Homo sapiens: one gene and its partners. The protein of the gene in region 2 interacts with the protein of the main gene of each other region in a pairwise test. Each region holds a gene or a part of one and is shown on either strand. Other genes may lie near its edges. The genes, in order: MVP, UBTD2 and TRIB3.

Region 1 (8,521 bases), on a different chromosome or scaffold from region 2:
CCGGAACAAGACCCGTGTGGTCAGCTACCGCGTGCCCCACAACGCTGCGGTGCAGGTGTACGACTACCGAGAGAAGCGAGCCCGGTGAGTGCTGGCAGCGCAGGGTGTAGGGGGTGGCTCTCCATGGGTCTGGCTCTGACCCTCGGCTGTCTCTGCAGCGTGGTCTTCGGGCCTGAGCTGGTGTCGCTGGGTCCTGAGGAGCAGTTCACAGTGTTGTCCCTCTCAGCTGGGCGGCCCAAGCGTCCCCATGCCCGCCGTGCGCTCTGCCTGCTGCTGGGGCCTGACTTCTTCACAGACGTCATCACCATCGAAACGGCGGATCATGCCAGGCTGCAACTGCAGCTGGCCTACAACTGGTAAAAATGGGGACAGGGCATGGGGGTGCATTCCTGGAATCCCAGCACTTTGGGAGGCTGAGGTGGGAGGATCACTTGAGCCTAGGAGGTCCAGGCTGCAGTGAGCCTTGATGGCCCCACTATACTCCAGCCTGGGTGACAGAGCAAGACCCTGTTTCTTTGTTTTTTGTTTTTTTAGTTTTTTGGTTTTTTGGTTTTTTGGTTTTTTTTGAGACCGAGTTTCACTCTTGTTGCCCAGGCTGGAGTGCAATGGCGCGATCTTGGCTCACTGCAACCCCCACCTCCCGGATTCAAGCGAGTCTCCTGCCTCAACCTCCCAAGTGGCTAGGATTACAGGCATGTGCCACCATGCCCAGCTAGTTTTGTATTTTTAGTAGAGATGGGGTTTCTCCATGTTGGTCAGGCTGGTCTCGAACTCCTGACCTCAGGTGATCCGCCTGCCTCGGCTTCCCAAAGTGCTGGGATTACAGGCATGAGCCACTGCACCCGGTCAACCCTGTTTCAAAACAAAAAAAACAAACCGGGTGGCAAGCAGTGGGTGAGGGTTCCTGCTGGGTGCAGCCTAGGAACCCCAAGAAAAGGAGGGTCCTGCTCAAGTGCTGGTGCTGGGCTCCTCATGAAGGCAGGACACCTCATTCAGTGCTGAGGTCAAGAGGGAACCTAGGAGTTCACGCAAATCCAGGGAAGGCGTGGGCTCACCTCCTGGGGTCAGGACTCAGGGATCCAGTAGCAGGACACTACCCCAACTAAGCTCCCAGTGAGCGTGCAGCCAAATGCGTAACTGTCGGGCTGTTAAAAGATGCATGGGACACAGCTGGCGGGAGTGGGCAGTGCAAGGGGGCGGTGAGAACTCAAGTTCAGAAACTGACTGCCCTGGCCTGCGCCCCCGCCCTGCTGTTTGCAGCCTGTGGACCTGGGGAAGGGACAGGGTGCTTTCCTCAGTTTCCCCATCTGTAACATGAGGAAGACAGCATTTTCTCCTTCACAAGGCCATTGAAAAGATGCAATGAGTGTTAGAACAGTGCCTCTATTGGTCAGAGCTCAATAGCAGCTATTAGGATTGGGTGAGATAAGTCATGTACAGAAACAGTGTTCATGACTGGGTACTGTGGCTCACACCTGTGATCCCAGCACTTTGGGAGGCTGTGGCAGGAGGATTGCTTGAGGCCAGGAGTTTGAGACCAGGCTGGGCAACATAACAAGACTCTGTTTCAAAAAAAAAAAATTTATAAACTAGCTGGGCATGGTGGTACATGTCTATAGACCCAACTACTTGGAAGGCTGAGGTGGGAAAATTGCCTGAGCCCAGGAATTTGAGGCTGCAGCAAGCTATGATTGTGCCACCACACTCCAGCCTGGACAACAGAGACCCACAGAGACCCTGTCTCGGAGGAAGGGAGGAAGGGAGGAAGGGAGGAAGGGAGGAAGGGAGGAAGGGAGGGAGGGAGGGAGGGAGGGAGGGAGGGAGGAAGGGAGGAAGGGAGGGAGGGAGGGTCAGGCGTGGTGGCTCATGCCTGTAATCACAGCACTTTGGGAGACTGAGGCAGGCAGATCACTTGAGGTCAGGAGTTTGAGACCAGCCTGGCCAACATGGTGAATCCCTGTCTCTACTAAAAATACAAAAATTAGCCAGGCCTGGTTGTGGGCACCTGTAGTCCCAGCTTGTAGTCCCAGCTACTCAAGAGGCTGAGGCAGGAGAATCTCTTGAATCCGGGAGGCGGAGGTTGCAGTGAACCCAGATCGAGCCACTGCACTCCAGCCTGGGCGACGGAGCAAGACTGTCTCCAAAAAGAATATTCAATACTCCCAAGCATGTCCCTCACCTCTTAGCTGAGAGCAGCCAGTGCCCTGATGGCGGCAGACAGCTGCCGACATATTCCCAGGGCTGCCGACATATTCCCAGGCACTACAACATCATAGTTAAGAGCACAGGCCCCAGAAGCAGCTGCCTGGTTCAGCTTTCTGGCTTGTCACATGTTATATGGCAAGTCTTGGGCCAGCCACTTGACTTCCCTGGACCTCTACTTCCTCATCTGTAAAATGGGGGTGGTGATCATTGCCATCTCATAGGGTGGCTGAGTGGGATTAAAGGAGAACGTGTGTTAAGTTTTTAGGACCTTACCAGGCATACATTAGCATTCTCTATTGCGAGAGACCCTGCCCGGCCACACAGGATGGGTGTTGAAGTTCTTCTCGGAGAGAGTTGCTGGCTGGGCGTGATCACACATGTAGTCCCAGCACTTTGGGAGGCTGAGGTTGGGGGGTTGCCTGAGCCCAGGAGTTCAAGACCAGCCTGGGCAACATGGCAAGACCTTGTCTCTTCTAAAGAGAGATTCCTGGGTGAAAGCAGCTTCCCCATTCTGGGCCTGTTTGTTCACAGGCACTTTGAGGTGAATGACCGGAAGGACCCCCAAGAGACGGCCAAGCTCTTTTCAGTGCCAGACTTTGTAGGTGATGCCTGCAAAGCCATCGCATCCCGGGTGCGGGGGGCCGTGGCCTCTGTCACTTTCGATGACTTCCATAAGAACTCAGCCCGCATCATTCGCACTGCTGTCTTTGGCTTTGAGACCTCGGAAGCGAAGGGCCCCGATGGCATGGCCCTGCCCAGGCCCCGGGACCAGGCTGTCTTCCCCCAAAACGGGCTGGTGGTCAGCAGTGTGGACGTGCAGTCAGTGGAGCCTGTGGATCAGAGGACCCGGGACGCCCTGCAACGCAGCGTCCAGCTGGCCATCGAGATCACCACCAACTCCCAGGAAGCGGCGGCCAAGTAAGTGAGGCTGGGAGCTCGGCTGCCTATAATGCCCATGGCAGGCCACTGCTGGGAACTGGATAACCTGGCATCCCTTGTGGACTGCCTGCTGCCATCCCTACCCTCAAAGATCTATTCCCTACCCAACAGATCAGGTGACCCACTTAAAATGTGAATCAGGCTGGGCGCGGTGGCTCATGCCCGTAATCCCAGCACTGTGAGAGGCTGAGGCAGGAAGATCACTTGAAGCCAGGAGTTTGAGGCTGCAGTGAGCCATGATTGCGCCACTGCACTCCAGCCTGGGCAACAGGCCTGGGAGACTGACCCTGTCTCAAAAGAAAAAAAAAAAAAAAAGCACGTATCAGATGTGGCTCCTGCAGCCTCCCATCTTGCATGTGATAAAACCTAAACTCCTTCCTGCAGCTCCAGCCGGCCTCCCCCGATTTGCCTTCTAGCCTCCCCCTTCCATGCTCCTCGTCCCTGGAACATGTTCCAGCTGACATGTTCCAGCCCCACTGGCTTCCTCTGCTCCTTCAATGCACAGCTTGGACCCACCTGAAGGCCTTTTGCAATGGCTATTCCTGCTGCCCAGAAAGCTTCCCCCCGCCCCTGAGCTCCCTTCCAGGCAGGCTTCTCCTTCTGGCTTCAGCCCAAAGATCCCCTCCTTGGGGAACACTTTTCTTTCTCTCACAGCTGAATAGCACCCTCTTTGCCTGGTCTCTCCCACACTTGTCACTGTCTGAAATCCTCCTTGTATACTTGTTCTTTTCCCACTCAAGTGGCGTGAAAGTAGGGGGCCGCAGTCACGCCTGCATTTGTCCGGCCTAGAATGACACTGGCTTGTGGCGCGTATACCATTCTGGGTTGAGTTGCGTATTGGGTGCCTTCTAGGGGCTGGGGTCTGTCCTGGGCACCGGTTTGGTTGGTGGCCGCTGCCCTTGGCGCTCCTGTTCCTGCTCTGGCCCCATGCCAGCCTCTCACCTGCGCTCCGTCTCCTCCAGGCATGAGGCTCAGAGACTGGAGCAGGAAGCCCGCGGCCGGCTTGAGCGGCAGAAGATCCTGGACCAGTCAGAAGCCGAGAAAGCTCGCAAGGAACTTTTGGAGCTGGAGGCTCTGAGGTGGGTTGAGAACTAGAGGAGGAGACTGGCAGGGGCCGAGGGTCTTAGGACAGCAGCTGGTGTGGGCAGCAGGCCTGGGTGGGGTGTCGATGAGACAGTGCACGGCTACAGCATAAGCCAAGGCCGTGGGGGGACTGGGCTGTCTCCCGGGTCTTACCTGACTCTGCCTTCTCCCCAGCATGGCCGTGGAGAGCACCGGGACTGCCAAGGCGGAGGCCGAGTCCCGTGCGGAGGCAGCCCGGATTGAGGGAGAAGGGTCCGTGCTGCAGGCCAAGCTAAAAGCACAGGCCTTGGCCATTGAAACGGTGAGTGGGGGGAGGCATTAAGAAGAGGGTGGCCTTGAGTCCTGGAAAAGGCCCATTCCCTACAGTCCCTGAGACTGTATAGGACACCAGGTCCCCCAACATAAAGCCCTATCCAAGTACTTTGCATTTGCAAAGTCCTTTGCCTTGTAGGATTCATTGACTCCATTGCTGGAAGGTAAGGATTAGAACACCCATTTTGCAGCTGGGCGCTCATGCACTGGCCACCTTGGCACAAGTGCTGTGTATGCTTCATAGGCATTATCTTATTTAATGCTTGAAATCCCATTAAGAGGCCGGGTGCAGTGGCTCACGCCTGTAATCCTAGCACTTTGGGAGGCCGAGGCGGGTGGATCACCTGAGGTCAGGAGTTCAAGACCAGCTTGGCCAACATGGTGAAACCCCATCTCTACTGAAAATACAAAAAATTAGCTGGGTATGGTGGCATGTGTCTGTAACCCCAACTACTTGGTAGGCTGAGGCAGGAGAATTGCTTGAACCCAGGAGGTGTGGAGGCTGCGGTGAGCTGAGGTTGTGCCACTACACTCCAGCCTGGGCAACAAGAGTGAAACTCCATCTCAAAAATAAAGTAAATAAAAATAAATGTAAAAAGAGGCCTAGTGTGGTGCCTCAGGTCTCTAACCCCAGCACTTTGGAAAGCTGAGATGGGAGGATCATTTGAGGTCAGTTCGAGACCAGTTCAAGACTAGCCTGGGCAACATAGCAAGACCTCATCTCTACAAAAACAAAATTTTTTAATTGACTGGGTGTGGTGGCACATGCCTGTAGTCCCAGCTACCCAGGAGGCTGAGGCAGGAGGATCCTTTGAGCCAGGAGTTCAAGGCTGCAGTGAGTCCTGATCTGCATTCCAGCCTGGGTCAAAAAATAAAGAATGATTGATTTTTCCTCTTCCAGGAGGCTGAGCTCCAGAGGGTCCAGAAGGTCCGAGAGCTGGAACTGGTCTATGCCCGGGCCCAGCTGGAGCTGGAGGTGAGCAAGGCTCAGCAGCTGGCTGAGGTGGAGGTGAAGAAGTTCAAGCAGATGACAGAGGCCATAGGCCCCAGCACCATCAGGGACCTTGCTGTGGCTGGGCCTGAGATGCAGGTGAGAGTTGGGGAAGGTGTGTTGGTTTCAGGACCAACCTTGAAACCAGGAAGGCAGAGCCAAGGCGGAAAACACAACATCTGGAAAGATTGTGGGGAAGGGAGGGGTGAGTGACCTGACCCACGATGCAGGGACATTCACACAGTGTCACGCTGCATCAACGTCAGGCACTGTACTAGACCCAGCAGTGAGCCAGAGCTCCGGAGGAGACAGGAAATGGATGGGACGCCAGTCTGACAGGCATTTCCAAGGCAGTCAAGCAGGGTGGTCAGATGCAGGGGAGGTGACCCTTCAAACCAGCTGACTTAAGGAGGGTCACTCTGAAGTGGCCAGGGTTTGACGCCCATCTCAACTTCCTCCTGTTCTCACCCTCCAGGTAAAACTGCTCCAGTCCCTGGGCCTGAAATCAACCCTCATCACCGATGGCTCCACTCCCATCAACCTCTTCAACACAGCCTTTGGGCTGCTGGGGATGGGGCCCGAGGGTCAGCCCCTGGGCAGAAGGGTGGCCAGTGGGCCCAGCCCTGGGGAGGGGATATCCCCCCAGTCTGCTCAGGCCCCTCAAGCTCCTGGAGACAACCACGTGGTGCCTGTACTGCGCTAACTCCTGATTAATACAATGGAAGTTTCTGGGCATTTACAATTTCAACACTTTTCTCTTGTCTGACATTGGTTGGGGTTACCAGGGAGCTTAATGGTGGGGAGGGGAGGTGCCCCTGGCATCTTTTTTTTTTTTTTCGAGCTGGAGTCTTGCTCTGTCACCCAGGCTGGAGTGCAGTGGTGTGATCTCTGCTCACTGTAACCTCCACCTCCCAGGTTCAAGTGATTCTCCTGCCTCAGCCTCCTGAGTAGCTGGGATTACAGGCACGTGCCACCACGCCCAGCTAATTTTTGTATTTTTTAGTAGAGATGGGGTTTCACCATGTTGGCCAGGCTGGTCTCGAACTCCCAACCTCAGGTGATCTACCTGCCTCGGCCTCCCAAAGTGCTGGGATTACAGGTGTGAGCCACTGTGCCCGGTCAACATCTTTAGATAGTTACAGGAGACTCTTCTCCTCCATAAAGGGGAGAGGACCCCGAGGCAGGGGAAGGATGAGCTGGAAGTCACCCAGTAGGAATGTGGCCCCAAAGCCTTGTGCACTGGGCTTCCTAGAGCCCAGATAGGGGTGATGATGCCACGGGTGGGGGCATGGGGCCCACAATGGCAACATCTCACCACTGGTTCTCCAGGAGCCCAGCTGCCTGGTAGCTCTCAGCTGTTGCAGATGCAACCCAGCTTCCCATTCGGGAGGCGCCCTCCAGCGCCACCTGCTGGAGCACCCACAGCACCAGCAGACGTGTCAGGCTTGCACCCGGTGCTGTGCGCTTGTCCCTTCCCAGGTGGGGGTGTCAGGTTGGGGAGGAGGACCCTGCCTAGGGCAGTAGGAATTGGGCATCTCCTTGAGCTTCCGGTCTGGGCTGTTTGGGAGCACTGAAGGAGGAGTGCCCTTATCCCACCTTCTCCCCCACAACCAGTATGGGGTCCTCATTTGAGAGAAGGATCCAGGTGCAGTCAGCCTGGGTGCACTAGCCCTTTGGGGCCAGGAACAGTTGTAGGTGCCAGGCCTGCCCCGTCTCTGCCGAGGAAGTAAAAAGATCCCAGGGGCCGAGTGCAAGAGCTTAGGCCTGTAACCCCAGCACCTTGGGAGGCCAAGGCACAAGGATCACTTGAGACTAGGAGTTCGAGACCAGCCTGGGCAACATAGCAAGACCCCCATCTCTACCAAAAAAAAAAAAAAAAAAGCAAAAGCCAGATGTTATGGCATGCATCCGTGTTCCCAGCTACTCGGGGGGCTAAGGTGAGAGGATTGCCTAAGCCCAGAAGTTGGAGGCAGCAGTGAGCTATGATCATACCACTGCAGTCCAGCCTGGGTGACAGAGGGAGACCCTGTCTCTATAAAAAAAAACAAAACAAACAAAACCCTTAAAGCCTCCCTAAAGCCCTCATTTTCACCTTCCTGTAATATTGAGTGGAAAAAGCCCGATCCCCCCTTAAACCACCTCCCTCCCTCTCTGCCCTGCCCCTGACCGTTGCTGCAGGAGGAACACCCCACGGAGCTGACTGATCTTATTTTAAACTCATGGGAACAAATTTTGAGGGAGGTGCAGCTTCTCTGGCTGTGCTGCTCTGTCTTGTGTGCGATCCGCTTTGAGACAACCATTCACACCACCTCTCCTCTCAGCCTCCTACACCCCTGCCCACTTTCTCTCACCTCTTTGAGAAAATAGAAGCAAATTGGGTAGGAAGGCCCTTCCCAGCAACAAACCTAACAAACTGCTGGCATCTAGACTGTCCTCCCTCCTCTTCCCACCCTGGGCTCCTCCCCTTGGGCTCTAGGAGAGAGGGCTGCATTCCTTCACTGATTGCCGTCCTCTCCTGTGCTGTCAATTTTTTTTTCTTTTTTTTTTTTTTCTTGAGACTGAGTCTCGCTCTGTCACCCAGGTTGGAGTGCAGTGGCGTGATCTCAGCTCACTGCAACCTCTGCCTCCTGGATTCAAGTGATTCTCCTGCCTCAGCCTCCCGAGTTGCTGGGACTACAGTCATGCACCACCATGCCCTGCTAATTTTTGTATTTTTGGTAGACATGGGGTTTTGCCATCTTGTCCAGACTGATCATGAACCCCTGACCTCATGATCTGCCTGCCTTGGCCCCCCAAAGGGCTGGGATAACAGGTGTGAGCCACTGTACCCAGCTGATATGCCATCAATTTCTTCTCTCCTGCATCATCATCATCAGGATATAGACATGTCTACTCTGTCCATATAAAACAACTCCCTTAACCCTATGAGCCCCTCTAACTTCCACCTCTCCTTTTTCCATCACAGCCAAATTTTTCCAGAGTTCTCTGTGG
Region 2 (12,364 bases):
GGGTTTAAGCTCTGACTGCCAGTTATAAGCTATGTGATGATGAGCAAGTTATTAAAGGTTGGTGCAAAAGTAATTGCGGTTTTTGCAATTAAAAGTAATGGCAAAGAACAAAACTATTTTTGCACTAACGTAATAACTGCTCTTGGCTTCAATCTTTATCTATGAAACAGAGATACTATCCACCTCATAAGGTTGTTAGGACCTGTTACATAATAAATACTGGATAAATGGTAGATGCTATTCAAAAACCATTGTTACTCACTGAGTAGGTGTCTGTAAGGCTGCTATAAATGGGTATCTGAAAGAACTCCATGATGTTCTCAAGACATTCTGGAATAGAGACTAAAGGAATGAATGTCCAGCATTCAGTTATTCTCTGTAAACCTGGAAACTTGTGACCACCACGGTCAGTTCTCTTAGGATATCACTGAATGCACAAAATAAATGACACACTCAGAAAGTGAGAAGTTACTTTGTACATCACTATACTTTCATTAAAGAGGTGAAGAAAGAAAAGGTTGTTGGTTGTCTTCAATTAATACAATTTTATTGGATTTTCTGCCCACATATTTATTTCAAAAAATCATAAAGGATTTAATTCCTTAGCAAATGTCATGGCTAAAGGCTTGTCTAGAGGTCCTAAATGCCAACTCCAGCATCACAATGTCATTCTAGTACGGCGGAGAACCATACAGAATGTCTGAAAATGTCAAAACAGGCTGGGCGAGGTGGCTCACGTGAAGTCAGGAGTTCAAGACCAGCCTGACCAACACGGTGAAACCCCATCTCCACTAAAAATATGAAATTAGCCAGGCACGGTGGCGCACGCCGGTAATGCCAGCTACTTGGGAGGCTGAGGCAGGAGAACTGCTTGAACCCGGGAGGGCGGAGTTTGCAGTGAGCTGAGATCGTGCCATTGCATTCCAGCCTGGGCAACAAGAGTGAAACGACGTCTCAAAAAAAAAAAAGTCAAAACAATGGGAAATTCTAGGAGCATGGAAGCTTAGAACTGTTAAATAATCTTACATAACTTCTATGACATACCTGTCTTGATTAAAAGTAGGCATTAAAAAAAAAAGGCTGGGCACAGTCGCTCACACCTGTAATCCCAACACTTTGGGAAGCACAGGTGGGCGGATTACTTAAAGGTCAGGAGTTCAAGACCAGCCAGGCCAACCTGGTGAAACCCCGTCTCTACTAAAAATACCAACAAATTAGCTGGGCATGGTGGTGGGCACCCGTAATCCCAGCTACTCTGGAGGCTAAGGTAGGAGAATCTCTTGAACCTGGGAGGCAGAGGCTGCAGTGAGCAGAGATCGTGCCACTGTACCGCAGCCTGGGCGACAGAGCAAGACTCCATCTCAAAAAAAAAAAAAAAAAAAACCAGCCTAACTACTCATGTGGCTGAGGCCAGAGGACTGCCTGAGCCCAAGAGTTCAAGGCTGCAGTAATCTATGATCATGCCACAGTACTTCAGCCTGGGTGACAGAGCAAGATACTATCTCAATAACAAAATATAAAAATAAAAGTTTTTTTATTTGAAAAAAGCCTAAGTAGCTGGAGCTCAAGAACTAAATTCTAGGCAAGGTATATGCCAAAGGAAAATACAACAATTAATCCCAAAACAATAGATAATGCAAAGCTTATAATGTGAATTAAGCCACTTCCATATTCTACAGTCTCTTATAAAAATCTCCCAAATTCCTTCAAAGAATACACCTAATAAGGAAGGTTTTATTGATATACACATAATTACTTGCATACATAAGAGATGGATTCAGAGGGAAAAAGGAAAGTATAGTATTTCAAATGGTCAAAAGATTTTTTTAAAATCTTTTTCTTACTAAGGCTGGCTGATATTTAGAAAGGGTCAAGCTATTCTAAAATGGTGATGTTTGCACAACACTGTGAATGTAATTATTTTGTTTATTTTTTTAAAGACAGAGTCTCACTATGTTGCCTGGGCTGGTCTCCAACTCCTGGGGCTCAAGCAATCCTCTCGCCTCATCATCCCAAAGTGCTGGGATTACAGGCATGAGCCACCCCGCCTGGTTGGTGAATGTAATTAAATCTGTCATGGAAAGTTTAAATCCGTTGTAAGAAGCATGTGAAGACTCCATGTTGATAAAACAACTTTCATAACCCAACACATTCAGATTAAAAACACGGCAAAACCCACCTCTACTAAAAATTTTTTAAAAATTAGCCGGGTGCGGTGGCATGCACCTCGTGGTCCCAGTTACTTGGGAGGCTGAGGTAGAAGGATCACTTGTACCTGGGAGGTCAAGGCTGCAGTGAGCTGTGATCTGGCACTGCACTCCAGCTTGGGCGATAAAGCAAGAACCTGTCTCGAGAAACCAAACCAAGCCCTCCACACATCCCCCAAACCTAACTCACTACCACAGTATGTTTGAAAAGCTAGGGATCTGTGCCAACACCCTTAGGAAAAAGTCTTTCCCTTCCCAACAATCTACTTATTAAGCAATAATTTTTTTTATATGTTAACCTGCAACACACCTGAGTTAATTTCACTAAACCACAATTAACTCTTAATTATCATGACAATAATGGAGAATAAAAGCGTCCATAATCAAATTCCAGAAATAATCCTTTTAGTACAAGAGCCTCTTCCCTGACCCCAGTTACATCAGGGCCCATGTCCTCTCTCCAAAAGAAAATAAAGACGTTTGGTGGTTAATGTTCCTTTTTCTAAACTTCATGTACAGCAGAGCTTACGGTCCAGAGAACTCAGTCCTCAAAGAAACTGATACTATAGCTATCTAACTGGATACCACCGGTAATAAATTACCCAAAGCTAAGATTTCACGCTTTTTAAAGCCCATATTAATAATGCCTGTCTGGTCATAAGTCACACTACCAAAAGGCTTAAATAAATTAATCCACATACATTACGGAGAAGAGCAAAATGCTTATGACAATATTAAAATGAGTGTGAAAAAAATTTAATTAAAACTAAACACTAGCGATAACAAATACTAATATATTTCAGAATCATTAATGATCAACACAATTAGAGGAAGATTCATTTTGATCCTTCAATTTCACCTTAACCCAAGGCTGTTTTAAATCGTGCCCTTTTTATCTTCCTGCTTTGTTGTCACTGAGGATCTCAATATGCCAGTAATAATGCTACGACATAAAATACACTATAAAGTAGCATTTTCATGGACTTTTTCAAGACAACTTCCACTGAGTTCTCAAGTTATTTACCCAGGATTTAGTCATACAGGATACCCACAGATTTTAATAAAGTGGCATGGCTAACCATCATGGAATTCAGGAAATCCATTAGCCAAAAAACTTAGGTGTACATGGTTTGTGAAGAGAGCTTAAGTGACAGGGCAAGCAACTGGTCTAAATGTTAGTATGCTACGAAAAAGTTGTAAACCCTCCCATACCCAAACAATTTAAAAATTTACAGACATGCACATTTTAAGGCAGCTAACATTAGGTCACAAATCAAACCAACGCTGTCATCTTTGCCTAAAGGCTGTTTATCACTAAAATATTCTACAGAATGGACGTAACCAAAGGTCACTTAAATAAAGATAGAACTAATTTTATTATTATACTGCCATACTACAACTACTACTGATTGAATTAAAATACCTATCCTCAGCACGCTTTTACTATAAAGTAGGAGTGCGTTCCCGTGTTAGAAAACTTTTAAAGTACTGATCTTACTGGGTGGGGTAAGTCAGGGTCCAACTGCACTTGTACTTTTATCCTACATATTTTCCTTCTACGTAAGACAGATGGGAATGTGATTAGCCCACCCCGACAGCACACCGGCCTAACACCCCCAAGCTCTAGCTAGGAGCCACGTTTTACCCGGGAAGACCGTTTCCCCACCCCTCCTTAATACAATGCCTGCGGCCACTGGAGACTCCTCCAGCCGAGCTCCAGAAACTCGCAGGTTTAAATGGCCAATCTGGAACCAACCGGGGCAGCTGTCATCTGAAACTCAGGAAAGCTGAGACCAGCCAACTCCACAGAACAAGGAAGGGTGCGGAAAGATGTGGCGGGGCCCGTCGGAGGGAACGCATCAAGCTCCCTCCCCCCGCCATCAATTCGCTTTTCTGCAACCCCGGCGCCGCCATCCTGATCCTCAATAATTAAACGGCCTGGAGAGGGAGTGAGGTGGCCAGAAGGGCAGCTTCGGGTCCGACTTCCCCGAGCCGAGCGGGGCGGTCGGCGAGGCCAAGGGCTACGTCCCCGGCGCTCAGAGGACTTTTCTTCAGGGCTGGGGCGGGAAGGGGCGACCCCCGCGGCTGGCAGGACAGCCGGAAGCGGAGCGCGGGGAATGACGTGGAAGAGGGGATGACAAAGGGGCGCGGGGGCCCGGCGCGGCCCGCGGGGGTCGGGACAGGTGGCCGGGCCTGGCCGGGAACAATGGGGGGCCGAGGCTGCCCCCTGGCGCTCACCTACCTCCGGTGCCCTCCGAGTTCTCGTTGAGGCTGCCCGAGGAGTCGTGCTGGGCGCCCACACACCCGCCCATGGGGGCCCCCGGCGCCTCGTCCGCCACCTCCGGACGCTCGTCCGGGCCCGCCGCCGCCGCCGCTGCAGCCTCCTCCGGCGCCACCGCCGAGCTCCGGACAGGCGCGCCGCTCCGCTCGCCCGCCGCGGCCCAGCCTCCGCCCCCCTCGCCGCTCCACCCACCGCCTTGGCTCGGCCCCTTCCTCCGCGCCCACTTCTACCTCAACCCCCGGGCCGCCCGCCCGGCAGGCCTGGCCCGCGCGCCGCCCTCGCCTTCGGCTCAGCCCCGCCAGGCCAGGGCTGGCCCATCCCGGGCGGGCCGCAGCGCCCGCCTCGCCCCCTCACAGCCCCGCACACCCGAGTCCAGGCGAGCCCCGCGCCGGCGCCTCGCGTCCGCCAGGACCCATCGGCCCCCGGCCCGCGGCGCCGCCCTCCGCACCCACGGCCTGGGCTCGGCCCGGCCCGCCCGGAATCGCCGGAGAAGGGCGGGGCCACCGGAGGCCGCGCTCTGATTGGCTGCGGGCGGGGCTGCGAGCGGAGCGGGGCGAGGGTGAGGCGGGGGAGGGGACGCAGGGGGCTAGGTGGGGGGAGGACTGCAGGCGGGGGGAGGACTGGAGGCGAGGGGAGGAGGAGAGAGGGAGGACGGGAAGAAGAAAGGAGAGGGAAGAAGGGAGGGAAAGCAGGAAAAAGCCGAACAAAAGTGAGAAAAGAGGAGTGGGAAGGGGCGAAATCGAGTTCCTGGCTCCTCGGCCGTCGGCTCCTTCTTGCTGGTGGAAGCGGGTCGCACGGGGGAACCGAGAAGTAGTCGTGGAAGACTCGCAGGCGGGGACGGGGCGGTTTCCCAAATAACGGGGGCTCGGGGGAGAGTGTCCTGGCCGAACGTTGAGGTCCCAGCGCCCTTTGAATTTGTATGGCGCTCCGTGGGTTGGTACCCCGAATCTGGGCTTCCTCTTGCCTGCCCACCCCCGTCTTCCCTAAAATCATGGGGCCCCATTATTAGGGGTGGAGGCAGTGGTTGTGGCAAACCAAACTGAGATTAGAGGCGAGGCGTCCTGATGGAACGCCTGGAAAGAAGAGATAAACGCTGACCTTAGTTCAGGGGGCGTGGGTTTCTTTCATTTTCACGGGATTAATGATTCAAACAATACTACTTATCAAGATCCTGCCTTTGGGTATCTTAAATCGTCCTTAGGCCAAAGTGAAGTGTAAATGAGTGAAACACCCTGCCTTTTCGAATCTAGAATTTGGGACATTGACCACGCCCAACATTCTTGGCGGTTACTTTTCCAATCTCAGCCAAATTGTTAATGGTCCCTTTAGAATTGTGCTTCGTGCTATGATGCCTTAAAATTGTTATCATCCTGCTTGGGACTTTCTAAAGCTTATTTCTGCCTAAGAAGCTGTTTTAACTATCTGCTCCATTTTTATATCAGACTTTCTTTTTTTAACATCCTGGGTCAGCTTTTGCTTAGCACGAAAAAAAATTTTTTAAGTTGAAATACCTAAGAAAGAGATGCTCTGCAGCTTGGGATTTGCATTTAAATATATTCTCATACATTGCTGGTGGGAGTGTAAATTGGTTCAATCTTTTTTGCAAAGCAATTTGGCAATGCAGATCAAGAGCCTTAAAAATGTTCATATCCTTTGACTCGGGATTATTCCACATCTGGAAATCTAGCTCACAGAAATAGATCAAGCTATTATACAAAGATTTAGATCTCTGTATTCATTTGATAAAAAGACAGTAGACAAGCAAAACCTACACTTAGGTTAAAACACAGAAATGTCGTGAGATATAGAAATCTGCTATATTAAACTCATCCTGAAGAATTAGTATTGTCCTCAGTTGTGGTCCTGAACATTCCAAAAAGAGCTTATGCCATCGATGTTATTATGAGTTTTCAGAGGTTGCTCTGACATCAGGGGCTGTGTCACAAAGCCTTCTGTCTGATCATTTTCAACTAACTATACACGTTGGCAGACACATCACTTCATCACTTCCCTGAAGAAGAGAAGCTGCATGCCGAATATTTGCAAAGAGATTGCTTTGTCCTGAATTTCACTCTAGAAATTGCAGAAACCAAGACTTCCACGATGTCTATTAAACAGATGGTAGGCACCCAAATGATGAGGGCTCTCCGATGAGCACTGAGGAGTTGGCACTAGGAAGAGAGAGCAATCTCGGGGAGAGATTCTCAGCAATAGATGTTCTCCACCCTGCCTTTATCTTAGAGACACATTTCCCAGGAGGCAGAGTAGTGTCGCAGTCAGGGCCCCAGCTTGGCGATTAACTTCCTGGATTGGAATCTGGCTTTCATCGTGTACTAGCTATATGGTCTGAAGTTTCTGCCAGACATGGTGGCTCACGCCTGTGATCCCAGCACCTTGGGAGGCTGAGGTGGGAAGCTCACTTGAGCCCAGCTGTTTCAGACCAGCCTGAGCAACATAGGGAGACCCTGTCTCTACGAAAAAATTTTAAAAATTAGCGGGGCGTGGTGGTGAGCGCCTGTAGTCCCAGCTACTCAGGGGGCTGAGGTGGGAGAATTACCTGAATCCAGAGAGGTGGAGGCTACAGTAAGCTGTGATCGCGCCACTGCACTCCAGTGTGGGTGACAGAGCGAGACCCTGTCTCAAAAAAAGAAAAAAGAAAGTTTGGCCGGGCACGGTGGTTCATGCCTGTAATCCTAGCACTCTGGGAGGCCGAGGCGGGCGGATCACGAGGTCAGGAGTTGGAGGCCAGCCTGGCCAATATGGTGAAATCCCATCTCTATTAAAAATACAAAAATTAGGCTGGGCGTGGTGCCTCATGCCTGTAATCCCAGCATTTTGGGAGGCTGAGGCAGGCGGATCACAAGGTCAGGAGATCGAGACCATCCTGGCTAACATGGTGAAACCCCGTCTCTACTAAAAATACAAAAAATTAGCCGGGCGTGGTGGCAGGCGCCTGTAGTCCCAGCTACTCAGGAGGCTGAGGCAGGAGAATGGCGTGAACCCGGAAGGCGGAGCTTGTAGTGAGCAGAGATCGCGCCACTGCACTCCAGCCTGGGCAACAGAGCGAGACTCCATCTCAAAAAAAAAAAAAAAAAAAAAAAAATTAGCCAGGCGTGGTGGCTCGCACCTGTAGTCCCAGCTACTTGGGAGTTTGAGGCAGAAGAATAGCTTGAACCCGGAGGGCGGAGGTTGTAGTGAGCTGAGATCTTGCCACTGCACTCCAACCTGGGCGATAGAGTGAGACTCCATCTAAAAAAAAAAAAAAAAAAAAGTTTATGTGGAGTTCAGTTTCCTCACCTGTAAAATTGGGCCAAAAATAATGCTCCAAACTCTGTGGGGCTTTTCATCAACTCTTTATTTCATGTCTAGCATCATCTATCTAAATTTACTGCAGGCAGGCACAGTGGCTTCGGCCTATAATCCCAACACTTTGGGAGGCTGAGGCGGGCAGACCGCCTGTGGTCAGGAGTTTGAGACCAGGTTGACCAACGTGGTGAAACCCCGTTTCTACTAAAAATTCAAAAATTAGCTGGGCATGGTGGCGTGTGCCTGTAATCCCAGCTACTCGGAAGGCTGAGGCAGGAGAATCACTTGAACCTGGGAGGCAGAGGTTGCAGTGAGCCGAGATAGCACCACTGCACTTTAGCCTGGGCCACAGAGCAAGACTGACTCCAAAAAAAAAAAACTGACTGCATAGCACTTTCTATCAAAACAATTCCTTCTTTGTGTGTGTGTGTGTGTGTGTGCACATGTGCTTTTCTACTGTTTTATAGTATCTTTATTAAGATATTCATATACCATGTATTTCACCAGTTTATTTTTAATTGACAAATAACTGTATTATGAGGTCACAGTGTGATGTTTAGATACATGTTTACAATGTGGAATGACTAGGCTAATTAACAAATCCATCACCTCACGTATTTGTCTTTTTTTTTTTTGAGACGTAGTCTTGTTGTTGCACAGGCTGGAGTGCAGTGGCACAATCTGAGCTCACTGCCACCTCTGCCTCCTGGGTTCAAGCGATTCTCCTGCCTCAGCCTCCCAAGTTACTGGGATTACAGGCGCCTGCCACCACGCCCAGCTAATTTTTGTAATTTTAGTAGAAATGGGGTTTCGCCATGTTGGCCAGGCTAGTCTCAAATTGCTGACCTCGTGATCTGCCCACCTTCGCCTCCCAAAGTGCTGGGATTACAGGCGTGAGCCACCGTGCCCCGAGCCACTGCGCCCCGTCCACGTGCTTCTCTTTTTTGTGGTGAAAACATTTAAGATCTACTCTGTTAACGATTCGGAAGTATACAGTGCATTATTATAGTCACCATTCTGTGCAGTAGGTCACTAATGCCTATTCCACCTAACTGAAACTTTCTACTCTGGAATCAATATCTCCCTTTTCCCCATCCACCCCCACCCCTTCACCAATTTACATTGTACAAGTCAATGGTTTTTAGTATATTTACTAAATATCAATAGTCAATGAATTTTAAAACATTTTTATCACCCTAAAAAGAAACCCTGTACCTATTAGCAGTCACTCCCCATTTCATTCTATCCCCTACCTCACCCCAGCCCTAGGCGACCACAAACCTTTCTCTTTTTTTTTTTTTTGAGACGGAGTCTCCCTCTGTCACCCAGGCTAGAGTGCACTGGCACAATCTCAGCTCTCTGCAACCTCGCAGTTGAAGTGATTCTCCCACCTCGGCCTCCCGAGCAGCTGGGACTACAGGTGTGCACCACCATGCCCAGCTAATTTTTTGTATTTTTAGTAGAGATGGGGTTTCACCATGTTACTCAACCTTCCAGGCTCAAGCAATCCTCCCACCTCCCCCCGCCTCCCCCCCGCCAACCCGCCACCCGCCGCCAACACACACAATACCCAGTAGCTGAGACTAACTTCATTCCTCTTTATGGACAATATTCCATTGTATGGATGTACCACATTTTGTTTATCCTTTCATCAGTTGGTGGTTATTTGGATTGTTTCCATTTTTTGGGTATTGGAATAAAGCTGCTATGAACATTCCTGTACAAGCTTTTGTGTAGCCATATGTTTTTAATTGTCTTGGATTTATACCTAGGAATGGAATTGCTTGGTCATATGGTAACCCTGTTTAACTTTCTGAAAAATTGGCAAATTGTTTCCAAAGTGGTTTTGACTTGATTTTCCTAATGGCTAATAATGTTGAGCATCTTTTTATGTACTTATAGGCCACTTGTATATCTATTTTGGAAAAATGTCTACTCAAGATACTTGCTCATTTTTTTTTTTTTTTGAGATGAAGTCTCGCTCTGTAGCCCAGGCTGGAGTGCAGTGGCATGATCTTGGCTCATTGAAACCTCTGCCTCCCAGGTTTAAGTGATCCTCCCGCCTCAGCCTCCTGAGTGGCTGGGATTACGGATGCCTACCACCATGACTGGCTAATTTTTGTATTTTTAGTAGACACGGAGTTTTGCCATGTTGGCCAGGCTGGTCTCGAACTCCTGACCTCAAGTGATCTGGCCGCCTTGGCCTCCCAAAGTGCTGGGATTACAGGTGTGAACCACTACACCCAGCCTATTGCAGGTTTTTTACTTTTGTGTGTGTGTGTGTGTGTGTGTGAGACGGAGTCTTGCTCTGTCACCTAGGGTGGAGTGCAGTGACGTGATTTTGGCTCACTGCAACCTCTGTCTCCTGAATTCAAGTGATTCTCCTACCTCAGCCTCCCAAGTAGCTGGGATACCAGGCACCTGCCACCACGCCTGGCTAATTTTTTCTCTTTTTTTTTTTTAGATGAAGTATCACTCTGTTGCCCAACCTAGAGTGCAGTGGTGCAATCATAGCTCACTGCAGCCTTGAACTCCTGGCTCAAGCAATCCTCCCACTTCAGTCTACCAAGTAGCTGGGTCTACAGGTGCACACCACCATGCCCAGCTAACTTAAAAAATTTCTTTTTGGGCTGGGCACGGTGGCTCACACCTGTAATCCCAGCAATTTGGGAGGCCGAGGTGGGTGGGATCACCTGAGGTCAGGAGTTCAAGACCAGCCTGGCCAACATGGTGAAACTCTGTCTCTACTAAAAATACAAAATTAGCTGGACGTGGTGGCACATGCCTGTAATCCCAGCTACTTGGGAGGCTGAGGCAGGAGAATCGCTTGAATCCGGAAGGCAGAGGTTGTGGTGAGCCAACATCTCGCCATTGTACTCCAGCCTGGGCAACAAGAGCGAAACTCCATCTCAAAAAAAAAAATTCTTTTTGTAGAGATAGGGTCTTGTTATGTTGCCTAGGCTGATCTCGAACGACTGAGATCAAGTGATCCTCCTGCCTCAGCCTCCCAAAGTGCCGGGGTTACAGGTGTGAGCCACCACACCTGGCTTAACTTTCTTTTCTTTTTTTTTGTTTTAATTTTGGAGACGGGATCTTGCTCTGTTGCCCAGGCTGGAGTGCAATGGCACAATCTTGGCTCACGGCAGCCTTAACCTTCCAGGCTCAAATGATCTTCTCACCTCAGCCTTTCTAGTAGCTGGGACTACAGCTGCATGCCACCATGCCTGGCTAATTTTCTTTATATTTTGTAGAGACAGGGTCTCACTATGCTGCCCAGGCTGGTCTTAAACTCTGGCCTCAAGTGATCCTCCCGCCTCAGCCTCCCAAAGTGTTGGAATTACAAGCGTGAACCAATGCTCCTTGCTTAACCCTCTTGATAGTGTCTTTTGAAGCACAAAAGGTAGTTTCCTTTTTTTGTTTGTTTTTTTTTTTTTTGGAGATGGGGGTCTCACTATGTTACCCAGGCTAGACTCTGACTCCTGGGCCCAATCCATACTTCCACCTCAGCCTCCTGAAGAATTGGGACCACAGTCATGGACCACTGCACCAGCTGATTTTAATGAAGTCCATTTAACCTATTTTTTTCTTTGATTGCTTGTGCTTTGGGGCTCATATCTAAGAAACCATTGTTGGCTGGGTGCAGTGGCCCGTGCCTATAACTCCAGCACTTTGGGAGGCAAAATGCCTTGAACCCCAGAGTTCAAGACCAGCCTGGACAACATAATGAGACCCTGTATCTACAAAAAAAATTTAAAGAATTAGCTAGGCATGGTGCTGTGTGCCTGTGGTCCCAGCTACTTGGGAGGCTGAGATGGGAGGATCACTTGAGAATGGAAGGTCGAAGCTTCAGTGAGCCATGATCATGCCATTGCACTCCAGCCTGGGTGACAAAGCAATATACCATGTCCGAAAAAGAAAAAGAAAGAAAAACAAAAAGAAACCATTGTCTAAGGCCATGGAGATTTACACTCTAAGAGTTTTATACTTTTAGCACTTACATTTAGGTCTTTGATCTGTTTTGAATTAATATTTTTATTGTGGTAAAATACATATAACATGAAATAACTTATTTTTATTTTTTATAAATGTATTTGAACTAAAGATGGGATTTTGCTATGTTGCTTAAGCTGGTCTTTAACTTCTGGCCTCAAGCAATCCTCCCACCTTGGCCTCCTACAGTTCTGGGATTAGAGGTGTGAGCTACTGCACCCAGCCTGACTTAATATTTATAAATGATGTAAAGTAGGGATCCAACTTCATTCTTTTGCATGTGGATTTCCAGTGTCCCAGCATCATTTGTTGAAAAGATTATTCTATCCACCCCCGCCCACCTTTTTTTTTTTTTTGAGATAGAGTTGTGCTCTTGTTGCCTGGGCTGGAGTGCAATGGCACGATCTCGGCTCACTGCAACTTTCGCCTCCCAGGTTTGAGTAATTCTCCTGCCACAGCCCCCCAAGTAGCTGGGATTACAGGAATGCACCACCATGCCCAGCTAATTTTGTATTTTTAGTAGAGACAGGGTTTCACTATGTTGGCCAGGCTGGTCTCGAACTCCTGACCTCGAGTGATC
Region 3 (11,461 bases), on a different chromosome or scaffold from region 2:
ATTGAGATGCCTGTCTTTGCCACAACGAACTTCCACGAATATAATTAGCTATGCCATCTGTACAGTTATCTGTTTAACATCTCTCTCCTCTATTAGACTGTGAACCCTTGAGGGTGGGAGCACATCTGTCTTGCATGGCACCTGGCCTATAGTAGGCATTCAGCGATGGTTGTTGAATTGCTAAGTGAATGAATAATCTGGCAGGTCACAATAGGATCTTTTGTGTTCAGCCCCCAGTGGCAGACATTCCTCAAGTAAATTTCTAACAGTCCTTCCCTTTCAGTAATATACATCTACTAATTTGATATTGTAAAACTCTTATACAATGATGATTAAATGAAGACAAGTAGAACATGAAAGTCCTCACTAATTAGGGTCGGGGTGTGGTGACATCCATTATTTGATAAGAGTGAATATTACATTTTATTATTATTTTGAGACAGAGTCTTGCTCTGTCGCTCAGGCTGGAGTGCAGTGGTGCAATCTTGACTCACTGCAATCTCTGCCTCCTGGGTTCAAGTGATTCTCCTGCCTCAGCCTCCCGAGTAGCTGGGATTACAGGCCCATGCCACCACGCCTGGCTATTTTTTGTATTTTTAGTAGAGACGGGGTTTCACCATGTTGGCCAGGCTGGTCTTCAACTCCTGACCTCAAGTGATCTGCCTGCCTCGGCCTCCCAAAGTGCTGGGATTACAGGCGTGAGCCCCCGCTCCGGGCCGATATTACATTTTTAATGGGCGGTTTTCATGTGGCTGCATCTGCGCAGCCTTGTCAAAAGTTCCTGCTCCAAGGCAAAAACCAGAGGAGTCTTTTTCTCTGTTGTGAGGTCTTGGATGAGTCTTCTGCTCTCTCTAAAGCTCATTTGTCTTATCTGTAAAGTGACAGGAACATCTGCCTCACTGGATTGTCATGAGGAGTAAATGAGTCTCTTTGTGGAATGGAGTGAAGGGTTGGCACGGTACCTGCCCTTGGCAGTCCTCGTGTTCCCCTCGCTCCACTGGTAGGTATCAGGCCAACACTCAGCTTGGAGGGAGCTGGGACAGGGTCTGTTGGAAGCTGGGAGGGGCAAGATAGAGGTCAGGGGCTGCCCCATGAGACCCTAGACACAACTAGGCCCTGTTCTGGGCAATGCTGGGTGCACAGAGATGAGACTGACTTGTCCCTGTCTGCATCAGTTAGCTTTTGCTGTAAAACAAAATAGCCTCAAACTTAGTGACTTAAAACCACAATGATTGGCCGGGTGCGGCGGCTCACGCCTGTAATACCAGCACTTTGGGTGGCCGAGGTGGGCCTATCACCTGAGGTCAGGAGTTGGAGACCAGCCTGGCCAACATGGCGAAACCCCCGTCTCTACTAAAAATATAAAAATTAGCCGGGTGTAGTGGCGCGTGCCTGTAATCCCAGCTACTCGGGAGGCTGAGGCAGAAGCAGAAGAATCGTTTGAAAACCCGGGAGGCAGAGGTTGCAGTGAGCCAAGATCGCACCACTGCACTCCAGCCTGGGTGACAGAGTGAGACTCTGTCTCAAAAAACAAAACAACAAAAACAAAACAAACAAACAAAAAAACACAATGATTTTATTTAGCTCAATTAGCTCATGACCTTGCGGGTCACTGGGCAATTCTAGCGTGGGCCAGCCTGGGTCAGATGATCTAGGGTGGCCGCTCTCGAGTATCTGCAGTTAGCAGGCTGTTGGCTGGGCCTCCGCACTTCCGCACATTCTTTTCCCTACGATCCCCTCCCTCTTTGAACCTGGTTTTGCTCAGGAGTCACTACCCCTCCATATGACGCATGAGCTCCACTTAGCTCGAGGAGTGCCATGGTTAGTGTAAGCACGTGCCCCATGAATGTAAGCTGGTGATTGGTCAGAAACGGCAAGTGATGCAGTTCTGACCAGTGAGATGTGTGGGAAAGTCGGTCAGGAGCGCTTCTGGGAAAGCTTCCTCCATCCCAAGAAAGAAATGTGGGAGCACCATTTTTTTTTTTTTCGAGACGGAGTCTCGCTCTCTTGCCCAGGCTGAGTGCAGTGGCGGGATCTTGGCTCACTGCAACGTCCACCTCCCGGGTTCAAGCAATTCTCCTGCCTCAGCCTCCCGAGTAGCTGGGACTACAGGCACGCACCACCACGCCCCGTCTCTACTAAAAATTTTTGTATTTTTAGTAGAGACGGGGTTTCACCATGTTGGTCAGGTTGGTCTTGAACTCCTGACCTTGTGATCTGCCCACCTCGGCCTCCCAAAGTGCTGGGATTACAGGCGTGAGCCACCGTGCCCAGCCGGGAGTAACTTTTATTGTGGGCTTATTATGCCAGGCGCTGCTTGTTCTAATTGCTTTATACAAAATAAGTCATTTAGTTCTCATAAGTTAGGTACTATCATTGTCCCCCATTTCACAGATGAAGAATCTGAGGCATAGAGTGGTTAAGAAACTTGCCAAGGGTCAAACAGCTATTGAGTGCTGGAGCCAGGATTTAATTCCAGGCAGCCTGACTCCAGAGTTCTGAGTTCTCAGGTACTACAATGACCCCTGGCTTCTTCCTCTGGTCATGGACCTCTTTAATGTGACACCTGCTGTAGCCATTGGGCCAGCAGTCTCGAGACAATACAGCCAAGAGACAGAAGGAGCCTGGAGAGCCGGGGTCCCTGTGCGCAGCTTTGGGAGTTGAATGGACCAGCACTGAAGCCCACCCTATCTGCTGACTTCTTGTTTTGTGTGAAACATATTTCCATCTTGTTGAAGCCATTTTGACTCAGAAAGTACCCTAATAGAGACACTGCTGCTGCCAGAAGAAACAGAAGGAGTGCAGGAAGACCCACTGGGCTCCAGGTAATCTGTTCTCACAAACCACTCAGCCCAGGTTAAGACACAACTCTACGGCCTTTCACCATGGGGGCCAGTTTTGAAGGCAGGAAAAACTGGTAAGAGATCGTTGGAAAGGATGGAAGAAATTGCAGAGAAAAATAAAATTATTTCATAATTCTCCTTTATTAGGCACAGGTAAACATACATACTCATGGTATCCAAAACCTAGAGTATGGACCTGGGATTGTGGACCCCAAGTGTCCCCAGAAGAGTCCCACCTGGGACTTTCCAGGTGGCCACAGGACAGACCCTGCCTAATCCTGTCCCTCAACCTTGGTGCTCAGGTCAGAAGCCCCATGGTTGACAGGCCTGGACCCTCATTCCAGAACAGTCTTGAGTTAGACAAGAACTAGCCTCATAGTTTGGATTCTTATCTCTGGCCCAAATCCCAGGCTTAGGCCTGGAAGGAGAATCTCTTAATCAAGAGGACAGAGATGCTGGGAACACAGTTCCCAGAGTGAGCTGGGCTTGGGTCCTGAGTTGCAGGGGAGAGGCCTGGAGCCTTTGGCACAGGGATACCTCCCTTTCTCTGAAAAGGTACAAGATACAAAGGCAGCTGGTTTGTTTGTGAAAGGGATTGTCCTTGGACAGAGGTGCCTGAGCACCAGCATCAGTGGAGGCCGACACTGGTACAAAGTGTACCCAGTGTAGACAGTGACCTATGGTCATGGAAAAGTGTTGTCAGCTCAAGGATGCCAGTTTGTCATCTCTGTGAGCAGGGAATATTGTCTCCTTTGCTCACTGCTGTACTCCCAGCACCGAGAACAGGGCTTGGCACCTGATAAGCACCCAAGCAGGAACTGCATGTGTGTGGAACAAAGCAGATGTGTACACAGCACACTCCACACAGGCTTCTGCCTTTCTCCCTTCTGGAAGGCACTGAAGGTTTGGCTCAGTTCAGAGGCAGGAGAAGGCTTGGAGCTACCCCCAAACTCAATCCACTGTTGGCAGCTGAGCGTGTAGTAGGGTGGTCCTAGCCATACAGAACCACTTCTCTGTCTCCCTCCTCTTCCCTGGCTTCGTCCAGCCCCAGTCCATCAGGGACCACCTGGGCAGCCTCCCAGAGATGGGATCGGGTTGGGGCTAAGGGCATCGGGTCCTGTCGCAGCCAGGGGTGCAGGAGGATGCCTGTGGCTGTGAGCCGTTCAGCTGGCTCCCGACGAAGGAGGCAGCGAACCAGACAGCGGGCAGGGGCCGAGAGGCCTGCAGGCAAGGCGTAGGCCCCGCGGCGGATCTTGCCGAAGAGCAGGACAGGCTCCGAGTCCTGGAAGGGGTAGTGGCCGGCCAGCATGGTGAAGAGCGCCACGCCCAGGCTCCAGACATCGGCTGCCTTGCCCGAGTATGAGGCCCGTGAGCTGAGTATCTCAGGTCCCACGTAGGCTGGGCACGCGTGCTTGTCCCACAGGGAATCATCTGGCCCAGTCAGCACGCAGGAGTCCTCCAGGTTCTCCAGCACCAGCTTCTTCCTGGGACATGGGGAGAAACAGAAGGGTCAGGTCCTACCCAGAACCCCCATGCCACCACCCCATGCTATCACCCTTGTGGCACCCACTTTCCAAGTGCCTGCTGGCCTTTGACAGACACAAGCCAGTCCTGTGATGTCTGATCCTGTTTTACAGATACCCAAGCCCAGGCTCAGAGAGGTTAAGTCATTTAAGGCCACAGAGCAATTAAATTTAAACTAAAATTCTGAAAGGAATACATTTTTCAACAGAGTCCCTTGGGGAGGGGGCTGATGGGGCTGAGAGGGTTAAGCCTCTCTTAAACCAGCTACAAACTTAGGGTCCAGGCAGGTAATAAGATGAGAGAAACAGGAAGTGTGCCTGACATCTCAGCACAAGCGCTACCTAAAAAGGGTACACAACGCATTCTAGGGTTTACCAAGTGCCTGCTGTGTTCCTGGCCCTTGACCCAGCTCATTACCTGGCTCACCTCATTCTATCTAGGCTACAGCCTGCAAGGAAGACACCATTTTACAGCTGTAGAGCATGGGCCTGGGATGGGAACGCTGGCTGGCAGATACTCAGAGCCAGTGCTGTGACCCACCCTCGCAGTTCCCAAGATGGCCCCACATTCCCATTGTTTTCCCCAAGAGAAGCCAGGAATTGTATTTTAATGAAAAGGTCCCCATTTAAAAAATATTGGCAACCAGTTTATATAAAAAACACAAACAGGTAAGCAGGGCAAAAAAAAAAGTGTGTAAGGCTGGGCGCGGTGGCTCATGCCGGTAATCCTAGCACTTTGGGAGGCCGAGGTAGGGGGATCACTTGAGTTCAGGAGTTCAAGACCAGCCTGGGCAACACGGTAAAAACCTATCTCTACAAAAAATACGAAAATTAGCAGGCATGGTGATTCGCACCTGTAGTCCCAGCTACTTGGGAGGCTGAGGCAGAAGGATATGACTTGAGCCCAGGAGGTGGCGGTTGCAGTGAGCTGAGATCGCGCCACTGCACTCCGGCCTGGGTGACAGAGTGAGACCCTGTCTCAAAAAAAAAAAAAAAGTGTGTCCTGCCATTTGCAATTTCTACTTTAAACAACTTCCACTGAGCACTCAAAGATGACTTTAATAGTAATCATTCTATTACCACTGCTATTAGTTTCTTCTTTATGGCATTACTTCCTGGGTGTCCAGTGGCATTTCACAAATACTGACCAATCCTATGAATCACAGTATTGGGGGACAAGGGGTGTCAGCATTATTAGCCCATTTTACAGATGAAGAAACAAAGGCTCAGGCAGGTGAAGTCATTTGCTCAGGGCCAAAAAGCAGGTAAGAAGCAGAACCCAGGATTTAAACACAGGTCTATCTAACTCACGGTCCCTCTTCTACCAATGACTCTCATGTGATTTTTCTTTTTTTTTTTCTTTTTTTTCTTTAGAGATAGGGTCTCACTCTGCCACCCAGGCTGGAGTGCAGTGGTGCAATCCTAGTTCACTGCAGCCTCAAACTTCTGGGCTCAAGCAATCCTCCTGCCTCAGCCTCCCAAGTAGCTGGGATCACAGGTGTGCATCACCACACCTGGCTAATTTTTATAAATTTTTTGTACAGATGGGGTTTTCTGTGTTGCCTAGGCTGGCCTCGAACTCCTGGGCTCAAGCAGTCCTCCTACTTTGGCTTCCCGAAGCACTGGGATAACAGGTGTGGGCCATCAAGTGACTTCTTGAAAAGAGCAGGAAGCACGCTGTCTCCTCCAGGAGGTCCGGGGTAGTTGTATCTACCCTAAGCCTAAAATGTGTTTGAAGTTATGTACTAGCTTAAACATCATTATAAATGTTACTTCTTTAAAAAAGGCATGCTTGTTCTAATATAAAATGTAGAAGGAAATATTAACAGAAAATCAGCCTTGGGGGCTGGGCGCAGCGGCCCATGCCTATAATCCCAGCACTTTGGGAGGCCAAGGCAGGCGGATTTCGAGACCAGCCTGGCCAACATGGCAAAACCCCATCTCTACTAAAAATACAAAAATTAGCCAAGTGTGGTGGTGTGTGCCTGTAATCCCAGCTGCTCAAGAGGCTGAGGCACGAGAATCACTTGAACCCGGGAGGTGGAGGTTGCAGTGAGCCGAGATCGTGCCACTGCACTCCAACCTGGGCAACAGAGCGAGACTCTGTCTCAAAAAAAAAAAAAAAAGAAAGAAAGAAAAAAAAGAAAAAGAAAATTAGACTTAGGCAAGCACCACAATAATAACTGCTATAGGCAAGATGGATGGCTGCTAAAATTAGTGGGTGAAAGTTGAGGAAAAACAGGATATTTATATGCCTAGCTTACCTCCCCCAAGGTATTTGTCAATTACAAAGGGTAAATTAGGACCTTACAGTAGAGAAACCTGGTAGGTCCTGCCCTAACCAAGTGATCAAGGTCACGACATAGGAATGACTATCAGCTCAAGTATCTCTTGATATGATGTGGAGAGGGGCCTATCGATTCTGTGTTGTTCTTGCCAAAAATACATAACTGCAATCTAACTGTGAGAAAACATCAATCAAATCCAAATTGAGGGACATACAAAGTAACTGATCAGTACTCTTCAAAAGTCTCAAGGTTATGGCCAGGAGCAGTGGCTCACGCCTATAATCCCAGGATTTTGGGAGGCTGAGGCAGGCAGATTGCTTGAGCTCAGGAGTCTGAGACCAGCCTGGGCAACATAGCAAGACCCCATCTCAATTAGCCAGGTGGGGTGGCACACACCTGTAGAACCAACTACTCAGGAGGCTGAGGTGGGAGGATCACTTGAGCCCGGGAGGTTGAGGCTGCAGTGAGCTGTGATCACACCACTGCACTCCAGCCTGGGTGACAGAGTGAGACCCTGTCTCAAAAAAAAAAAAGTGTCAAGGTCATGGGTCTTCAAAGACAGGGAAAGACTGAGGAACTGTCTCAGATTGGAAGAGACCAAGGAAACCACTGATGACTAAATTGGGATCCTCACTGGATCCTGCACAGCAAGGGGTGTTAGTGGGAAACTCGGGAAGTGGGAATCAATCTGTGGCTTAGTTAATAGTTTGGGTAATTGTACCATAGCTACGTCAGGTGTTAACATTGGAGAGCACTGGTTAAAGGATATGCAGAAACTCTTTGAACTATTTTTGTAGGTTTTCTAAAAGTCTAAAATTATTTCAAGATAAAAAGTTTTTTAAAATGCCATGGGGTCACACTCCTTTCTCCACAGAAAACTCCTGTGTAACTGGCAGCTTAGTGCACTCCCTGACACATCTTGACTGCCCCCAGGAATCTGGAGAGGGAACAGGAGGCGAGTCTCTCTGCCCTTCTCCCCAGAATTATCTTTTAAAAATTTTTCTTAGCGTCTAGGCTGGGTGCAGTACCTCACACCTGTAATCCCAGCACTTTGGGAGGCCGAGGCAGGCGGATCACCTAAGGTCAAGAGTTCAAGACCAGCCTGGCCAACATGGCAAAACCCCGTTTCTACTAAACATAGAAAAAATGAGCCAGGCATGGTGGCGCATGCCTGTAGTCCCAGCTATTCGGGAGGCTGAGGCAGGCGTATCACTTGAACCCAGGCAGCAGAGGTTGCAGTGAGCCAAGATCGCGCCATTGCATTCCAGCCTGGGTGACAGAGTGAGACTCTGTCTCAATTAAAAAAAAAAAAATTCTTAGCATCCCAACCTAGAGAAGGAAGATTCTTTTAACCAAAAAGTGCTAATTCTCAGTTTCACAGAAAACGTTCCCGTGTGGGGAACCTCAGACCCTATTTTGGCTGTGGTCTTGGAATCCTGAAAACACCCTAACAATCCAGCCCTTTTCCTTACCAACGGAGAAACTGAGGCTCAGAGACACTAGGTCACCCAAAGTCAGTTGGTAAGCCCAGCCAGGCCCCTGCCTCTCAAGCTCAGATTGAATTAAGACCCAGGCTCTGGAGTCAGATCTAGGTTCAAATCCCAGCTCTACCATTTATTCTGCTATGGGATCTTGGGCAAGTTACTTGAGCTCTCTGGGCCTCAGTTTCCTTGATCATATGGGGATAATAACAGTACCTGCCTCGTGTTTGTAAGGATGGAAGACCACGTTAGATAATGTGGCGATGCTTTCGTCACTGTCGGCTACTATGACTTTCACATCTCAGTGCTCCATCCCAGAATCCCAAGGGGCTCCCAAGAGGACTGAGTCAACTCTTTTTTTTTTTTTTGAGATGGAATCTCACTCTGTTGCCGAGGCTGGAGTGCAGTGGCGTGATCTTGGCTCACTGCAACTTCCGCCTCCCAGGTTCAAGCAGTTCTCCTGCCTCAGCCTTCAGAGTAGCTGGGATTACAGGTGTGCGCCACCACACTAGGCTAATTTTTGTATTTTTAGTAGAGACGGAGTTTCACCATGTTGGCCAGGCTGGTCTCGAACTCCTGACTTCAAGTGATTCACCCACCTCGGCCTCCCAAAGTGCTGGGATTAAAGGCGTGAGCCACTGCACCTGGCCTGAGTCAACTCTTCTCAGGGAACTAAACAGGGGCTGCTGGTTACTTCAGTTTCTCCCACTTCTTGCCTAAGTTACCTTGCCTTCCTGGGCCTCGGTTTCTCTCCATCATGGCCCACCCCCTGGGTGTGTCTGTGGCTGGGGTCTCTGAGACCACACTCACCTCTCACGGTCAGCGAAGACAAAGCGACACAGCTTGAGATCACGCAGGACCAGACCGTGCTGGTGACAGTGCGCCAGGGCGGTGGCCATCTGGCGGAAGAGCACGGCAGCCTCAGGCTCAGGGATACGGTGGCGGCTTCGCACCAGGCTGTGCATGTCCCCATGGGTCCGAGTGAAAAAGGCGTAGAGGAGCTGGGTACCAGCCAGGACCTCAGTGGGCCGAGCCACATGCTTGTGCGGGGGCAGCCGCGCATAGGGCTCCAGCACGGCCAGGGCTTCCTGGACGGGGTACACCTGTGGGCAGAGCATGGTGTTAGCACAGCTGGGGACTCCCGGGAGCTGAGGCTGGCATTGCAAACAGTCACAGCTGACCTATTAGACACTACCATGTGCTAGGCATCGCACCAAGCGCTTCACTGACCGAGTCACTCAGCCCTGACCATGGTCCTATAAGGTAGGATGACTTGCTCCATTTTACGGTTAACGAAGCTGAGAGGCCACACAGCCAGCAAACAGCACGGCTGAGATTTGCACGTATGCACTCCACTGTCTGTGCTTTTTTTTTTTTTTTTTTTTTTTGAGACGGAGTCTCGCTCTGTCACCCAGGCTGGAGCACACTGGCGCAATCTCAGCTCACTGCAAACTCCGCCTCCTGGATTCAAGTGATTCTCCCGCTTCAGCCCCCAGTGTAGCTGGGATTACAGGCATGTGCCACCGCACCTAGCTAATTTTTGTATTTTTAGTAGAGATGGGGTTTCATCATGTTGGCTAAGCTGGTCTCGAACTCCTGACCTCAGGTGATCCTCCCGCCTCAGCCTTCCAAAGGGCTGGGATTACAGGTGTGAGCCACTGCACCCGGCCTTTTGTCTGTGCTCTTAACTGCTACGCTATATGGCCTCAAACATCGGATAACTGAAAAGTAACAGGTCACCCAAACAGAAAAATAACCCACAAAGCAGGAGGAATCCGGAAGGGCGGATGATGCAGAAGGCACCTGATGCTCATCACCGTCACAGCTCCCGTCCTCTTTGCCCACCCACGCTTTCATTCATTCAGTATGCTGGCCCTGGGCCTGCACGGGCCAGCCACATGTCCAGCTAGACTGACAGCCATGGGCTCTGCTCTCCGGTGCCCACTGGGAGGCCATGCAAACATGCCCAGAAACCAAATATTGACAAATGCTGATAAGCATTGCAAAGGAACCAAGAAAGATGCTGGAATAAGGGTTTTCCTGTTTGTTTTTTGTTTTTTTGAGACGGAGTTTTGCTCTTGTTGCCCAGGCTGGAGTGCAGTGGTGTGATCTCGGCTCACTGCAACCTCCACCTCCCAGGTTCAAGAGATTCTCCTGCCTCAGCCTCTCGAGTAGCTGGGATTACAGGCCCCTGCCACCATGCCCGGCTAATTTTTTGTATTTTTAATAGAAACAAGGTTTCACCATGTTGGCCAGGATAGTCTCGAACTCCTGACTTCAGGTGATCTGCCTACCTCGGCCTCCCAAAGTGCTGGGATTACAGGTGTGAGCCACCGCGCCCGGCCACCTGACACGTATTTTACTTATTCGCTTGTTTAGTGTCTGTATCTCCCACTAGAACGTCAGCTTGATGAGAACAGAACTTTGTTTTTTAACCACAGCATGGTACATGGCAAATACGGGTGCTCAATGAAGTTGTGTTGAATTAATGAATAAGTTGATCATTTACAAAGACAAGATTTTGATCTTTCTACACACTGACCAGAAAAGCTGAGGAAGTGTGGAAATGACCATTCAGCACCCATGGTGCACATTGGCATAGGGGTGAGTATGTTCCAGTGGATTTTCCCAAATGTTTCTTGAGAATCAGGGCCCTGTGAACGCATGGCGCTTCTCTCCTGAGCCTGCTTGGGTTATTCCTCTTATCATGGACTCACCTCCCCAGCGGGAGTGGAAAAGAGCCTGTGATGCTGCAGGAAGGGGACCCAGAGTTCTGGGCTCCTTAGGGCACCTGGTAAGGGCGCTGGAGATCTGTGCACAAGAGGCCAGGTGAAGCTAGGGGCTGGACCCTGTCTGGATCTGCCCCGCTGTTCACTGCATCTCCGTCAACAGAGCAAAGCTCTGCTGCTGCCCCAGGAGGAGGCTTAAGTCCTTCTGCTTCTCTGTGCATTCCCAAGGGACCCAGGCCCCCGCTACTCTCCCTTGGGTTTCCAGGTCCCCCTTATCTTCCTTATGCTTGCCTGCCAGGGCAGCCTGCCCTGATTGTGTGAAACGCTTATCCTAGCACGGGCACAGGACTCTCTGGGCTCAGCCTCCTGGGCCCAATCCCAGCTCTGATACCACCTGGCTCTGTCATGTGGCAAGTAACCATGGCTTTCTGAGTCTCAGTGTCCTCTATCTATAAAAGGGGCACAATGATAGAAACCACCTCATTGGTTGTGTCAAGATTAAAAGAGATTGTGCACACTAAGCAATCATCATAGTACCTGGTGCACAGTGAATACCTATTGTTACACTTTTTATTCTCATCTCTGTCTTCTTGGACT

Evidence for each region.
Region 1: the proteins of UBTD2 (region 2) and MVP interact in binary tests that used the Homo sapiens proteins (3 or more experiments, as listed by UniProt).
Region 3: the proteins of UBTD2 (region 2) and TRIB3 interact in binary tests that used the Homo sapiens proteins (3 or more experiments, as listed by UniProt).

The regions. Positions count from the first base shown.
Region 1 is NC_000016.10:29,841,757-29,850,277, forward strand, and holds the end of MVP (major vault protein), read left to right. Parts: coding exon 1-84; intron 85-158; coding exon 159-356; intron 357-2,736; coding exon 2,737-3,123; intron 3,124-4,106; coding exon 4,107-4,223; intron 4,224-4,401; coding exon 4,402-4,528; intron 4,529-5,440; coding exon 5,441-5,629; intron 5,630-6,005; coding exon 6,006-6,233; 3' UTR 6,234-6,265; downstream 6,266-8,521. UniProt on the Homo sapiens protein: Required for normal vault structure. Vaults are multi-subunit structures that may act as scaffolds for proteins involved in signal transduction. Vaults may also play a role in nucleo-cytoplasmic transport.
Region 2 is NC_000005.10:172,279,147-172,291,510, forward strand, and holds the start of UBTD2 (ubiquitin domain-containing protein 2), read right to left. Parts: upstream 4,619-12,364; 5' UTR 4,520-4,618; coding exon 4,450-4,519; exon of another isoform or gene 4,446-4,449; intron 1-4,445.
Region 3 is NC_000020.11:389,064-400,524, reverse strand, and holds the end of TRIB3 (tribbles homolog 3), read right to left. Parts: intron 9,239-11,461; coding exon 8,946-9,238; intron 4,328-8,945; coding exon 3,835-4,327; 3' UTR 2,966-3,834; downstream 1-2,965. UniProt on the Homo sapiens protein: Inactive protein kinase which acts as a regulator of the integrated stress response (ISR), a process for adaptation to various stress. Inhibits the transcriptional activity of DDIT3/CHOP and is involved in DDIT3/CHOP-dependent cell death during ER stress.